Homo sapiens: one gene and its partners. The protein of the gene in region 3 purifies or fractionates together with the protein of the main gene of each other region. This does not show direct contact. Each region holds a gene or a part of one and is shown on either strand. Other genes may lie near its edges.

Region 1 (3,848 bases), 6.9 Mb from region 3:
AGGGAGGCAGAGGTGGGAGGATAGCTTAAGCCCAGGAATTTGAGACCTGCACACTCCATTCTCCACAAAAAGAAAAAAAAGAGAGAGACAGGAGGTAAGGTGAGGGTGGAGTGGAGGGCCAGTGGGCCAATGTGTGGCAGAGCACAGCCTGCTTGGATTGCTCTTGGAAACATGTTTACCTGTAGCTTAACTCCCTTTATAGTTCTTTGAAGAGCTGGCAGTAGAAGATAAACAGGCTGGGGAAGAAGAGAAAGTGCTCAAGGAGAAGGAGCAGCAGCAGCAGCAACAGCAACAGCAGGTACAAGTGCCACAGGGCCCACCAATCCTGGGAGGCATCTGGGTTCCACCAACCCCTTTCCAGCCCATGTTGCTCCATTCAGCTGATGGGGAACCCTCTGTGAGGCAGAAATACAGCAGGGGCCTGGGCTTCATTTTCTCACTGTTCTTTTGCTCTCAGCAGCAAAAAAAAAAGCGAGATACCCGAAAAGGCAGGCGGAAGAAGGATGTGGATGATGATGGAGAAGAGAAAGAGCTCATGGAGCGTCTTAAGAAGCTCTCAGTGCCAACCAGTGATGAGGAGGATGAAGGTAAATGACCTGAGGGGGAATGGGTACCTGGAATCCATGAGTCATGGAGAGTGATACCTCATACCCTGATCTTCAAGTTGGATTCAATTGGGGGGCCAGACATTGTAATTCTTTCCTATCTCATGTTCTCCCCCTGTCATTTCAGTACCCGCCCCAAAACCCCGCGGAGGGAAGAAAACCAAGGTAAGCCATCTGTGTGGTAAACGGAGACTCCAAGGATGCAACCTTGACCATCCTACTGACTTCTGTGGCCCTTTCATTCTCTAGGGTGGTAATGTTTTTGCAGCCCTGATTCAGGATCAGAGTGAGGAAGAGGAGGAGGAAGAAAAACATCCTCCTAAGCCTGCCAAGCCGGAGAAGAATCGGATCAATAAGGTGACAGTGGTGGCTCGATCAGTCACTCTCACTCCATTTAGCACCTTCTGGCCATGGTGGAGTAATTTCCCGCTTTTAAACTAGCTCTTCTCGGTCTGTCTTACTTATACTGTTAAAATCATCTTTTTAGAATACATGCCCAGGCTGGGCACAGTGGGTCACGCCTGTAATCCCAGCACTTTGGGAGGCCGAGGTGGGCGAATCACGAGGTCAAGAGATCGAGACCAGCCTGACCAACATGGCGAAACCTCATCTCTACTAAAAATACAAAAATTAGCCAGGCGTGGTGGCGTGCGCCTGTAATCCCAGCTACTTGGAAGGCTGAGGCAGGAGAATCACTTGAACTTGGGAGGTGGAATTTGCAGTGAGCTGAGATTGAGGCACTGCACTCCAGCCTGGGCAACAGAGCAAGACTCAGTCTCAAAAAAAAAACAACAAAAAAAACCATGCCATTTTTATCACTCAGAAATCTACAGTGATTCTGTTGCTTTAAGCACAGAACCTGAAACAAAGCCCCAGGTCCTTGCTCTTCTACTTGTGACTCTTCTGCGTGTGCATCTTAGTCCATGTCCATTTGAGCTCTTGAGAAAGCCTCCAGTGCTAGTGCCACTCACTCTGGTGGCGCACTTGCCTGACTTATAATCCTTAGCCTTGCTGACGTTCCCTAGTTATCTCTTCGCTATCTAGTCTGAAGCTGGAGGGTAGGGTTTTTCTGGGTCTCATTTTTCGTCAGCAGCACTCAATACAGATGGTCTCCAACTTCTGCTTCGGTGTACGATTTTTCTACTTTATGATGGTGTGAAAGTCATACTCATTTAGGGTACTCCTCAACTCATGATGGGATTATATCCAGATAAACCCATCATAAGTTGGAACTATTTTTTTTTTTTTTTTTTTTTGAGACGGAGTCTCACTCTGTTGCCAGGCTGGAGTGCAGTGGCGTAATCCTGGCTCACTGCAACCTCCGCCTCCCGGGTTCAAGTGATTCTCCTGCCTCAGCTTCCTGAGTAGCTGAGATTACAGGCACGTGCCACCACGCCCAGCTAATTTTTGTGTTTTTAGTAGAGACAGGGTTTCACCATGTTGACCAGGATGGTCTCGATCTCTTGACCTTGTGATCCACCTGCCTTGGCCTCCCAAAGTGCTGGGATTACAGGTGTGAGCCACCACGCCCGGCCAAGAACTATCATTTTTTATTTAAGTTTCTGGTGGGTTTATCGGGATGCAACCTGTCGTAAATGGAGGAGCATGTGTATGGTTAACACAGTAGACTCTCTAGAAATGCTTATTACACAGCAAAGTAGCACAATAATTTGTATGTATGTGTGTAATGTGTATGTGTGTCTCCTCCAGGCCGTATCTGAGGAACAGCAGCCTGCACTCAAGGGCAAAAAGGGAAAGGAAGAGAAGTCAAAAGGGAAGGCTAAGGTGAGAGAGTAACTAGCAGGAGGAGGTATTGGGGCCCAGGAATTAAAACATTTCATCAGGGCTGGGCGCGGTGGCTCACGCCTGTAATCCCAGCACTTTGGGAGGCCGAGGTGGGCGGATCACGAGGTCAGGAGATCGAGACCATCCTGGTAACACGGTAAAACCCCGTCTCTACTAAAAATACAAAAAAAATTAGCCGGGCGTGGTGGCGGGCGCCTGTAGTCCCAGCTACTCGGGAGGCTGAGGCAGGAGAATGGCGTGAACCCGGGAGGTGGAGCTTGCAGTGAGCCGAGATTGCGCCACTGCACTCCAGCCTGGGTGACAGAGCGAGACTCCGTCTCAAAAAAAAAAAAAGAAAAAAAAAAAAAACATTTCATCAGACCTGTCTTTTCCCTATTAGCCTCAAAATAAATTCGCTGCTCTGGACAATGAAGAGGAGGATAAAGAAGAAGAAATTATAAAGGAAAAGGAGCCTCCCAAACAAGGGAAGGAGAAGGCCAAGAAGGCAGAGCAGGTGTGTATTTGGTGTTGGGGCAAGGTGGAATGAGGGACTAGGGCTTCCAGGGTCCTTATGGGAGAGTTAGAATCTGGGGATATAGTTATTATCCCAGCAAACCTTTATTCTTTTCTTTTTTTGGGGGAGTAGTTGGGGTGGTGGTTCGTTTGTTTTTGTTTTTGTTTTTGTTTACACAGGATCTTACTCTGTCACTCAGGCTGGAGTGCAGTGGTGTGAACACGGCTCACTGAAGCCTCAACCTCCTGGGCTCAACAGATTCTCCTGCCTCAGCCTACTGAGTAGCTGGGACTACAAGTGTGCACCACTACCCCTGGCTAATTTTTTTATTTTTAGTATAGAGATGAGGTCTCACTATGTTGCTCAGGCTGGTCTTGAATTTCTGGGCTCAAGCAGTCCTCCTGCCTCAGCCTCCCAAAATGCTGGGTTTACAGGTGTGAGCCAGCATGCCAGCCAGCAAACTTTTTCTATAAAGGGCCATATAGTAAATGTTTTTGGCTTTGCAGGCCACATACAATCTCTATCACATATTCTTTTTTTTTTTTAACAACTCTTTGAAAATACAAAAATTATTTTTATAAAGTTCAGGAGCTATATAAAAATAAATGTCAGGTCAGCCTTGGCCCATGGGCTGTAGTTTGCAACACCTAATCCAGTGAAGAAAGGGCCTGGAATTTATCTCAGATGATCTGGGTCCTGGCTCTGCCTTCACTGGCTGTGTGACCTTGAATACATCTTCCCATCCCCTTGGGTCTCACTTGTCTCCTTTGTGTGATAGAAGGAGGAGTCCGGAGATCTCTAGGGTCCCTATGCGTCTGGCACTTCCTAATTCTGTGATTCTGCTGGATTCCTCTGACTGTGCACTAGAGCTTCCTGATCTTTTTTTTTTTTTTTTTTTTTTTGAGATGGAGTCTCACTCCGTTGCCCAGGCTGGAGTGCGGTGG
Region 2 (3,848 bases), on a different chromosome or scaffold from region 3:
AGGCCATCACCGATAGCACAAATTTAGTAATCTGACCACCCAGCTTTAAAATGGAAGTGTAGGCCAGGTGCGGTGGCTCATGCCTATAATTCCAGCAGTTTGGGAGGCTGAAGTAGGCGGATCACTTGAGGTCAGGAGTTTGAGACCTGCCTGGCCAACATGGCGAAACCCCTGTCTCTACTAAAAATACAAAATTTAGCCAGGTATGATAGTGCACACCTGTAATTCCAGCTACTTCAGAGGCTGAGGCAGGAGAATTGCTTGAACCTGGGGGGCAGAGGCTGCAGTGAGCTGAGATCAGGCCACTGTACTCCAGCCTGAGTGACAGAACGAGACTTTGTCACACACAAAAATAGATTAATTACTTTTAAAAGAATGGAGGTGTATAGAGGCAGTAGTTGGAACAAAGAATTCACTTAGGAGTTACGGACCTGGACATCCGATAAGTCAGTTTTTATGTCATGAATCATTTTGCTTTACGTTCAGTCATTATGTATGTATTCTAGCCAATTGTTGAGCCAATTAATGAAAATAAATTTCTTGGACAAATATCAGAGAAACATTGTTTATGATTTATTTATGTTTACTAGAAAACCATCTGAAATAAAGCTGTCAGGTTGAGAATGAGCTAGGTAGAATTGATTCAGAAAAATGGATAGAAATGTTCAGGGAAGCTAGAACTCTTCTCTATTTTGTTATTTATGGGTGCAGTTAATTTAGTTGCCTGTGAATTGTCCACTATGGTTTATGTGGCATATTTTTAGTACCAAATTCCTTACCATTATATAAGGAAGGGATTTTTACAGGGATTACTAGCCAGTTTTAATAACTACTGAGAACATAATTAGATAAAACCAGAAAATGATATATTTTCTTTAAAAATGTATGCATTAGGTTATCTGCTATTGGATTTTGCATACTAGTATTTCTTTTCCGAGGTATAGGATATATTTTGTAAATGCAAAATGTAACTTCCCCCCTTCATATATTTCTCTAAATGGAAATAATTTAAAATAGGCTTTGAAACAAGTGGCCTTTGCTGTGCATTTACTGATAGTATCATATAATGCACGAATTTTGTATGTATTTATGTATTTTTATGGTAGAGATGGGATCTTCCTAAGTTGCCCAGGCTGGTCTTAGACTCCTGGGCTCAAGGGATCCTCTTGCCTTGGCCTCCCAAAGTGGTGGGATTAACAGGCATGAACCACCATGCCTAGCCTCGAATGATATTACTGTAATTTTAGAACCATCAAAAAAATATCAGGCCTGTCAGGGAGAATGATGAATATTTTGACAGCCAACAAGTTCATCCCAATAGTGGTATACAGTATGTATCGTATATCTGTGATATTAAAATTGTAAGAGGGGTAATTAGGGAAAAAATGTCTAAAAGTAACTTCTTGAAGGGAGGGAGGAGACAGGGATAATGAAAAGGTTGAGAAGCCATACTTTAAGGGAACTAATAGGATTTTGGTCATTTTGCCATCCATTTTCTCTGGCTTGGCAACAGATATTTGTATATCATGTGGAGCATAATCTTGTTGTGTAAAATGTTGAGAGAATACCTTGTCTAAAGAATGATTGTAGTGATTTAGAATGGTAGGGAATGAAAAAAATTAGTGAGTTTTTTTTTTTTTTAAACAAACCCTAAGAGCTGTTGTTTATTCCAAGCTTTATGTAACATAGCTGGCTAGCTACTATGAACAGCAGATAAGATTGGGCAACATTTGGTATCAAAGATAATTAGAGGAATGATGTTGATATTTTCTTGTTTTTTGAATGCCATTAAAATTAAAAGTAATAATTGAAAAGACCCTTCATGTAATAAAAAATGATACCGTGAAATATTTCTTTGACAAACTGGAAACCTTTTTTTTAGTCTGTTCAGTAGGCTCACAGAGCTTTATTTATATATGACCTGTGATATACATTTTGCATAATTTCTCATGCAAACATCATGCATATTTTCTCACTTTATGAAGTAAGAACAAAGTTCAGTATGTTCTGTATTTTTTTTTACGCTGGAGGATTGATGTGATATGAAGCTGATTAAAAGGAAGGTTACTGATAACTACAAAAGAGTGTGCTTTGAGTTTCATTTTTAGTAATGGCAGCAAATGTATTCAGATTCATTATGTTTTTTCACAAAGTTTAAATGTATACCATTGGGGCTAAGTGTACAGGCTGTGGCCTTGGAACAGAGAGAAGCTAACTAGTCCACATGGAGATCAAACCCCAGGACCATGGTCTTAATTAGGATCGTACTACAACCACTTGGAAGCAGTACAACTACCAGACAAAATGGCTGATCCTAAATATTGGTAGAATCATATCAATGTGGAAAATTGGTTTGTGTCAACATAGGAATTCATGGATGGACAAAAATAGTAAGTGATTGTGATATACCAGGTTAGTGTAGCTGCAATTATGCTTGTAAATTTTTTGTCTACTTATGTAAACATTTTCACAGGTTTGTAGCTAATAGAAGAAAACAAAGAATCTGTTCACCTATTTATGTAAGTGAAAGTGTAAATTTAAAAATACATTTAGTCCTGCTGTTAATAACCCTTCCATTCTTTTTTACTTTCCCTCAGACCATATATTGTGATTATAGTTTCTGCTGAGGAGGATGGAAACTCAACTCCCTTTGAATAATATTAGTAATTCTACTTGATGTTCAGAACCGGATTGCAAGAGAGTTTAAAGTGCCCAACACCCCTTGTGGGAAACTTTTTAGTATCTTAAGTGCATGGAACTACTGCTGCAGCCACACCGCCTGAAGCTTCAGCCACACTGAAACTTCATAACAAAACTTACCCTCTTTTTTCCTAATTTCTGTGGTCATTGCAATTTGAGCATGTTACTTTGTTTAACAAAAACTCATTTCTTAAAGATTATTTTAGTATTGCTGTACAAACAGAATAAAATTATGGCATTATTCAGTGACTTGTGGTCTTAGTTTCTGCCCTTTGTTAAATTTAGCTTTGTTCTCTGATTTAACCTTGAGATCCCAGACCCCTTATTAAATAAGTCTTATAGACATTCTACCTCGTAACAAGTAAAATTGGTATGTAAAGATTCTGTAACTAGTAAATTGGATAAGTCATTAATTACATAAACGATTACCTGATGATTACTTGAGGTCCCTTTATTTAGGAATATAAATGATATTTCCCCTACTAGGCTTTTTTCTTTTTCTTTTAAAAAGATCTTATTCTCGGCCGGGTGTGGTGGCTCACACCTGTAATCCCAGCACTTTGGGAGGCCGAGGCGGGCGGATCACGAGGTCAGGAGATCAAGACCATCCTGGCTAACCCATCCTGCCTAACACGGTGAAACCCCATCTCTACAAAAAATACAAGAAATTAGCTGGGCAAGGTAGCGGGCGCCTGTAGTCCCAGCTACTCGGGGGGGGGGGGGGGGGCTGAGGCAGGAGAATGGCGTGAACCCAGGAGGCGGAGCTTGCAGTGAGCCGAGATTGCGCCACTGCACTCCAGCCTGGGCGACAGAGCAAGACTCCGTCTCAAAAAAATAAATAAATAAAAATTAAAATTAAAAAAATACAAAATAAATAAAAGATCTTATTCTGGCTCTCCTTTAAATAGCAAAACAGTAGCCTGGGCCCATAATATCTTGTTGCTCTGTTTACCATCATATAACAAATGCTTTTCTCTGGGTCATTCTATCCATTTAGGGACTATTTTGGCTAATAGTCCCTAAAACCATTAGCTCCTCCATATGTGCCATTTGTATAATTCTTTAGTAAATTGTATTAATGGGAGAATCTGTAAGTTACGTCTGAACTTTCAGGTTGTCTTATAATTGTCTTTTTCCTTATGTCAGAT
Region 3 (3,848 bases):
CAGGCATGCATTTTGAGAAGCATCTTTAAGTCTGGAAGACACTCCTAAACATTTCTTATCCTGAGTCCTTTAGCTATCACTTCTGTAGAACTGAGTCAGGGACACCTGGGGCGTGTTTAATAGAGGGCAGCGTCCTTTTTTCTTTATTTTATTGTAAAAAACACAAATTTGATCATCTTAATCATTTTTAAGTGTTAACAGTAGTGTTAAGTCTATTCACACTGTTGTGCAACAGATTTTCAGAAGTTTTCATTTTGCAAAACAGAAACTGTACCCATTTAACAACACTGTGCCACCTGATGTCCCCTGGCCTCCTTTACTTTTATGTAAGCCTGACTCTGTCTCCTGCTGGGATCTCACAAGGAGGGAGACCACTCTAGAAATAGCATCACACATTCTTTCAGTAAATACCCTGGCCAGAGAGTCTGCCAGCTGGATACAAGAGGCACCGTGGTCTTAGGACAGGAAAGGGGGTATTGTAAGTAAAACCTGAGTCAACAGAGAGAGATTACTGTGACTAGGAAAGTTAACTTTTCTCCTTCACCAGAGTGGGAAGCCGAAGCAGAGTGTTCTCACTGTACTCACTCCCTGGTCTTGTTAGGACTCACCAGAGCATTCTGTTTCCTATGTTGTGGTTGACCTCTGACTAGCCAATATTTTGCCTCTGTTCTGCCTTACTCTTCTCTGGATTCCCATGAGTTAAAACACATTCTAAACCATCTCCTTGGAAAAGCAGGCTTGGTTCCATCCCCTGAGAATGACAGAGCAGGAAAGTGGAGCTGGTCCAGTAGTAGGCCTGGGTCCTGTGCTTACTCCATCTAACAAGCCCAGTGACCTTCTAAAATAACTCAACACTGAGCTGCTTCTTCATCAATCAGATGGTGATCAGTGAAAACACTTCAAGAACTCTCGATGAAGATGAGGTAGTGATGTTATTCTTAGTCCTTCTCTTTTCTCTTTCCCACCCCATTCCTTGTGCTCTCATTTCAGGGTTTCTCGGTGGAGGGGCAGGAGAACCTGCAGGAGATCCTCAGCAAGCAGCTGCTTCTGTGTCAGTTCCTCATGGCGCTGTCCATTGTCCGGACAGGTGACACTTCCTCAGCTGTCTCCTCACCCCAGGACCCACTTAGAGGCCCTATTGGACAAGAACATGTACAAGGGGTTGGTGGGGAAGTTAAAAAAATCTGCTTATATTAGAGGACAGGTAGCTAAATGAGTAATTTAGGGAAGAAAGGGCTGTGGAATCCTCAAAGTCCCCTCCAAAGATGGTTCTCCCCCTTAAATTGTCTCTGAGTTTTAACAGACCCAGGTGCTGGTTTCCTTGACTTTGTCATATTTACTCCCAAGACTACTTCACCCATCTCTTGGAATAGACCCATTGGCTGCTTTTGGTGTTTTCTCTCTAATCTAGGAGGCCACTTCATCTGTAAAACCTTTGACCTGTTCACACCGTTTAGTGTGGGGCTTGTCTACCTGCTGTACTGCTGCTTTGAACGAGTTTGTCTCTTCAAGCCTATTACCAGCCGTCCTGCCAACTCAGAGAGGTGAAGCCTTTCTCTCTATATTAGCCAGATTAATTGGCTAAATGTCAGAACAGCAAATCATGGTGCATCTCTCTGGCATGACCTCTTAAGCTACGTTTAAAACCTTGACTTTAAAGAAGTGATGAGAGCCAACAGGATTCAGGATTCCTGGATCTTTTGGTCTTGTGATATGCCAGTTCAGCCTCTGCCTCCTTCTTCCAAGCCTTATGCTCCATGCTTATGTGAGGGATTCTCAGCTTGGCCAAGGAGAAAGTGACCAATAGTAGGGACACTTCAGGGGTCTTGGGCTGGGAAGGGGCAAGGAGCCGCTATCCAGAGGCACTACTGGGGTCCCAGTGTGACACTGCCCACACACAAGGTGAGAGAAAATGCAACCAATCAGAATTGCCCGGTGGCTTTGTTACAAACACATATTTCTGGGCCTTCTCCTGGGAGAGTTTGATTCATTAGGTCTATAATTTAACAGACTCCCCAGGTGATTGTGACACAGCCCGTCTGTCACAGGGAAGTTAGGAACTACTGCGATAGAGAGTAGAAATAGAGCTCAACAGAGAAGGATTTGAGGGGAACTTTAGCACCACAAAGGGTCTGTGTTGTTCTTTGTGCGTAGGCCTAAGGTTGAACAGGGAAGCCATTAAGCTTTGTGATTCCACAAGGGGTTGGGGGAAAAGGAATGTATGGGGAGGAAGCCCTTGCTCGGTGGAGTGACAGAGTATCTTCTGCCAGGTATGTGGTGTGCAAGGGCCTGAAGGTGGGCATAGATGATGTTCGGGATTACCTCTTCGCAGTGAATATTAAACTCAATCAGCTGCGGAACACGGATTCCGACGTCAACTTGGTGGTCCCCCTGGAGGTGATCAAGGGAGACCATGAATTTACTGACTACATGATACGGTCCAATGAGAGGTAAGCCAACGGGCTGGTTTTTGCTGGTAACACTGAGGTCCTAAGGAAGACCAGAGAGTGAAAGACTGAATGGTTGGCTCTTGGTATCACTTTGTCAACCCTGACAAATTGGCAACTGGGTTTGGTCTGCTGGTTTCAGGGCTCCCTGGGACTTTGGTTAGTTACCCTCAGGGACCCCCATCCTGCTGCCATGCCCTATCCCAAGGGTGGCAGGTAGGTGCCTGGCTAGTATAGGCCTGCCTGCAGGAGCCTGTGTATAACAGTGAAAGCTGACAGAGCAGCCTGTGTCCCTGGAGGCAGGAGTAATTTCCCTTTAATTGCTGCTGTTTGTAAAAGGCCATCATGCTTGTTGCCTGGTGAAGTCCCTGTTTGGAGGCAGGAGATGGATGGAAAGCATGTGTACAACATGCTTTGGAAGTGCCCAAACTTTTGCCATTTCTTCATGAGTTCCCCAGCTGGTGATCCAAATGCTGTTTTCTGTATCTTCTTTGTTTTCCCCACTCCCTGTTAGTGGTAATAATTTAAAGTTGTGACATTTGGCTTAGTTTTCTCAGTGGGCAGGCCTTTGAAAAAAGTGTTTGGAGATAGGCTGGAGGGTTGTATAGTAGTAGTGATTCAATAGAAAATGCTCTCTTAGGGGGCTAAACAGGTGTTGGAAAGGCCTTAGTTAAGGGTCCAACCTTAAGTCCCCCAGAGAAGTTTGAAGATAGAGGTGGCCCTGGAGAATCATAGAAGGGGAGGAAGTCTTTATCCTATTCTCTCCTATTTTTCCAGTATTGCCTGGTGTTTTAACTTTCCACAGTACTGCCATATAAGCGCCCTCATTTTGATAGCAATGGTAGGCACCAAGGTGGAGCAGACAGTAAACTTCAGCATGTTATAGATGAGGAAGCAAACAGGCCCAGCGACCCGCCTGGCTAGGGCTTTGTAACACTTCTGGGTTATGGAACATGTCTTTTGGCTGAACAAGTGTGCATAGATGCATGGCAGAACTGGAATTCTTTTCAGGGGTTCCAATAACACAGAGTGTTTAAGCAACTCTATAACCAGCCACTTTTCTTTTTCTAAAAAAGTTGAGGTATAATTCTGTAAGTGAAATGCAAATCTTAAGTGTATAATCAGTTTACAAATGCATATATCCTTGTAGCCTACATCCCTATTAAGATAAAAAATGTGGCCGGGCGTAGTGGCTCACACCTGTAATCCCAGCACTTTGGGAGGCTGAGGCAGATGGATCACGAGATCCGGAGATCGAGACCATCCTGGCTAACACGGTGAAACCCCATCTCTACTAAAAATTCAAAAAAAATTAGCCAGGCGTGGTGGCGGGCGCCTGTAGTCCCAGCCACTTGGGAGGCTGAGGCAGGAGAATGGCGTGAACCCAGGAGGCAGAGCTTG
Region 4 (2,859 bases), on a different chromosome or scaffold from region 3:
TGGCCACATATATGCGAATCTATAAGAAAGGTGATATTGTAGACATCAAGGTAAACATAAAATTGGGAAAATAACACTACAGAAGATAGAAAAGTTGGATTTAATCTAGTGTAGGAATTCAAATACTAGTGTATGTTGCATCTGTAAGAGTATAGAATGGATTTTTTTTTTTTTTTTTTTGGAGACGGAGTTTCACTCTTGTTGCTCAGGCTGGAGTGCAATGGCATGATCTCACCTCAACCTCCGCCTCCCTCCCGGATTCAAGCAGTTCTCCTGCCTCAGCCTCCCAAATAGCTGGGATTACAGGCGTGCACCATGATACCTGGCTAATTTTGTATTTTTAGTAGAGAAGTGGTTTCTCCATGTTGGTCAGGCTGGTCTTGAACACCTCGGGTGATCTGCTGGACTCAGCCTCCCAATGTGCTGGGATTACAGGCATGCACCATGATTCCTGGCTAATTTTGTATTTTTAGTAGAGAAGGGGTTTCTCCATGTTGGTCAGGCTGGTCTTGAACACCTCGGGTGATCCGCCGGACTCAGCCTCCCAATGTGCTGGGATTATTACAGGTGTGAACCACCGTGCCCGGCCTAGAATGGATTTTTTAAAGTGCTATTCTTAGCAGAATTTAAATTTTCCTCATTACCCGCTTGGAGTTAACAGCTAGTGGAAATTGGGTGGTAGGGTGGGAAATTATGAGTTTATCAAGTTGGAAAGGAACGCCTTAGTGCAAAGTTTAATTATTGATGAAGATTACTATTACTATGATTAAAAACCCTCCTAGTGAAAGCTGTGTTCTTCTGTGACCTGGATTTAAATGTATCTTGGCACTCGAGCTTAATGATGACTGTTTTTTTTGATTGCTTGAAGCAATGTGAAAAACACATTTCACCGGCTCTGAAAGCTCTTGAGTTGCCATTTGAAAGAAATCTTAGAATACTTTGCAGTTACTTAAAGTCAGAATTTTAAAGGAAGGGGAAATGCTGGTATATAACATTGGTTTCTTTAATAGGGAATGGGTACTGTTCAAAAAGGAATGCCCCACAAGTGTTACCATGGCAAAACTGGAAGAGTCTACAATGTTACCCAGCATGCTGTTGGCATTGTTGTAAACAAACAAGTTAAGTAAGTAGTGTTGTAGTTCTTTGTGGCTAACCAGTATTCCCTCATATACCCCCTTTTCACTTTGCCAGTTGGACTTATGTCTTTATTGGTCATTCAAGTGGGGCAAAGGAAATATCCTTTTAAAACTCAGGCAAACTGGGTGTTTGTCTGTATCCTGTCAGAGGAAACAAATTGAAATAGATTTACTGGAAAGTCTTACACAGTTAGTTACTAAGCGGTTTGTTTGTTTTGTTTCGAGACGGAGTCTTGCTCTGTCGCCCTGGCTGGAGTGCAGTGGTGGGATCTCTGCTCTCTGCAAGCTCCACCTCCTGGGTTCACGCCATTCTCCTGCCTCAGCCTCTGGGGTAGCTAGGACTACAGGCGCCCACCACCATGCCCAGCTAAATTTTTTGTATTCTTAGTAGAGACAGGGTTTCACTGTGTCAGCCAGGATGGTCTCAATCTCCTGACCTCGTGATCTGCCTGCCTCGGCCTCCCAAAGTGCTGGGATTACAGGCATGAGCCACCGCGCCTGGCCCAGCAGTTTTTATAGAATAAAAAGAGAAGTTTAGTAAACTTTTAAATTTTATTAGCAGTCTGGTTTTAGATTACTAGAGTTTAAGAGACCATCATCTCATCAAAGAGAGTTAAAAGTAGGGATGTTCTCTGCAAGGCCTCTTCTGATATGATTAATTGATTGTAAATTAAGTAATCAAGGCATACTTTGTTGATTTGTCATATCTGGGTAAAAGGTTTATGGTTTATTTAATAAATGAAACTGCAAAATCAGTTTTCTACATTTCTGTTATATTTTTGTTAAAGCACTTAAAAGAATTTCTGCTCTGTCCAGGGGCAAGATTCTTGCCAAGAGAATTAATGTGCGTATTGAGCACATTAAGCACTCTAAGAGCCGAGATAGCTTCCTGAAACGTGTGAAGGAAAATGATCAGAAAAAGAAAGAAGCCAAAGAGAAAGGTACCTGGGTTCAACTAAAGCGCCAGGTAAGAATTTGGTGTATATTTCATTGGTTCTGAGAGCACTTTAAGGTTGAGATTTAACACATCACATAATTATTTTATTCCCTTTTTTTTTCCTTTAATAGCCTGCTCCACCCAGAGAAGCACACTTTGTGAGAACCAATGGGAAGGAGCCTGAGCTGCTGGAACCTATTCCCTATGAATTCATGGCATAATAGGTGTTAAAAAAAAAAATAAAGGACCTCTGGGCTACAAAAATGTTTCTCTTCATTGAGTAGAAGTGTGGTGTCCTCTCCCCCAAAGAAATATTTAAAGCAAATTTTGGTTGTGTCCTAATTCATTATGTAATGTCCTTGCTATTCAAATTTAATGTATTTCTTGCTGAAGGACATGAGGTAGCTTATTGTGCAACAAATTACTCAGAAAATGGCGAGGTATTATATATGAAATACTTGTACTGGTTTGAAGATAGTCCTTCTAAATCATCAAGGAAGAAATAAAATATTTTTTTTTTGAGACAGTCTTGCTCTGTCAACCTGGCTGGAGTGCAATGGTGTGATCTCGGCTCACTGCAACATCTGCCTCCTGGGTTCAAGCAATTCTGCCTCAGCCTGCTGAGTAGCTGGGATTATAGGCGCGTGCCACCACGCCTGGCTAATTTTTGTATCTTTAGTAGAGACAGGGTTTCACCATGTTTATAAGTCTGGTCTCAAACTCCTGACCTCGTGATCCACCTGCCTTGGCCTCCCAAAGTGCTGGGATTACAGGTGTGAGCTACTG

What was found. Proteins that work in one complex are often made in the same cells at the same time.
Region 1: the proteins of CMTR1 (region 3) and ABCF1 purify together in Homo sapiens (affinity purification with mass spectrometry, with the first as the bait; one large-scale study listed by BioGRID). This does not show direct contact.
Region 2: the proteins of CMTR1 (region 3) and CPSF6 purify together in Homo sapiens (affinity purification with mass spectrometry, with the first as the bait; one large-scale study listed by BioGRID). This does not show direct contact.
Region 4: the proteins of CMTR1 (region 3) and RPL21 purify together in Homo sapiens (affinity purification with mass spectrometry, with the first as the bait; one large-scale study listed by BioGRID). This does not show direct contact.

Annotation. Positions count from the first base shown.
Region 1 is NC_000006.12:30,577,616-30,581,463, forward strand, and holds part of ABCF1 (ATP-binding cassette sub-family F member 1), read left to right. Parts: intron 1-202; coding exon 203-298; intron 299-460; coding exon 461-587; intron 588-732; coding exon 733-770; intron 771-854; coding exon 855-962; intron 963-2,315; coding exon 2,316-2,390; intron 2,391-2,790; coding exon 2,791-2,904; intron 2,905-3,848. UniProt on the Homo sapiens protein: Isoform 2 is required for efficient Cap- and IRES-mediated mRNA translation initiation. Isoform 2 is not involved in the ribosome biogenesis.
Region 2 is NC_000012.12:69,245,743-69,249,590, forward strand, and holds part of CPSF6 (cleavage and polyadenylation specificity factor subunit 6), read left to right. Parts: intron 1-3,848. UniProt on the Homo sapiens protein: Component of the cleavage factor Im (CFIm) complex that functions as an activator of the pre-mRNA 3'-end cleavage and polyadenylation processing required for the maturation of pre-mRNA into functional mRNAs.
Region 3 is NC_000006.12:37,460,559-37,464,406, forward strand, and holds part of CMTR1 (cap-specific mRNA (nucleoside-2'-O-)-methyltransferase 1), read left to right. Parts: intron 1-990; coding exon 991-1,087; intron 1,088-1,411; coding exon 1,412-1,544; intron 1,545-2,270; coding exon 2,271-2,450; intron 2,451-3,848. UniProt on the Homo sapiens protein: S-adenosyl-L-methionine-dependent methyltransferase that mediates mRNA cap1 2'-O-ribose methylation to the 5'-cap structure of mRNAs.
Region 4 is NC_000013.11:27,254,232-27,257,090, forward strand, and holds the end of RPL21 (large ribosomal subunit protein eL21), read left to right. Parts: coding exon 1-50; intron 51-832; exon of another isoform or gene 833-904; intron 905-1,010; coding exon 1,011-1,123; intron 1,124-1,169; exon of another isoform or gene 1,170-1,295; intron 1,296-1,952; coding exon 1,953-2,103; intron 2,104-2,204; coding exon 2,205-2,294; 3' UTR 2,295-2,337; downstream 2,338-2,859.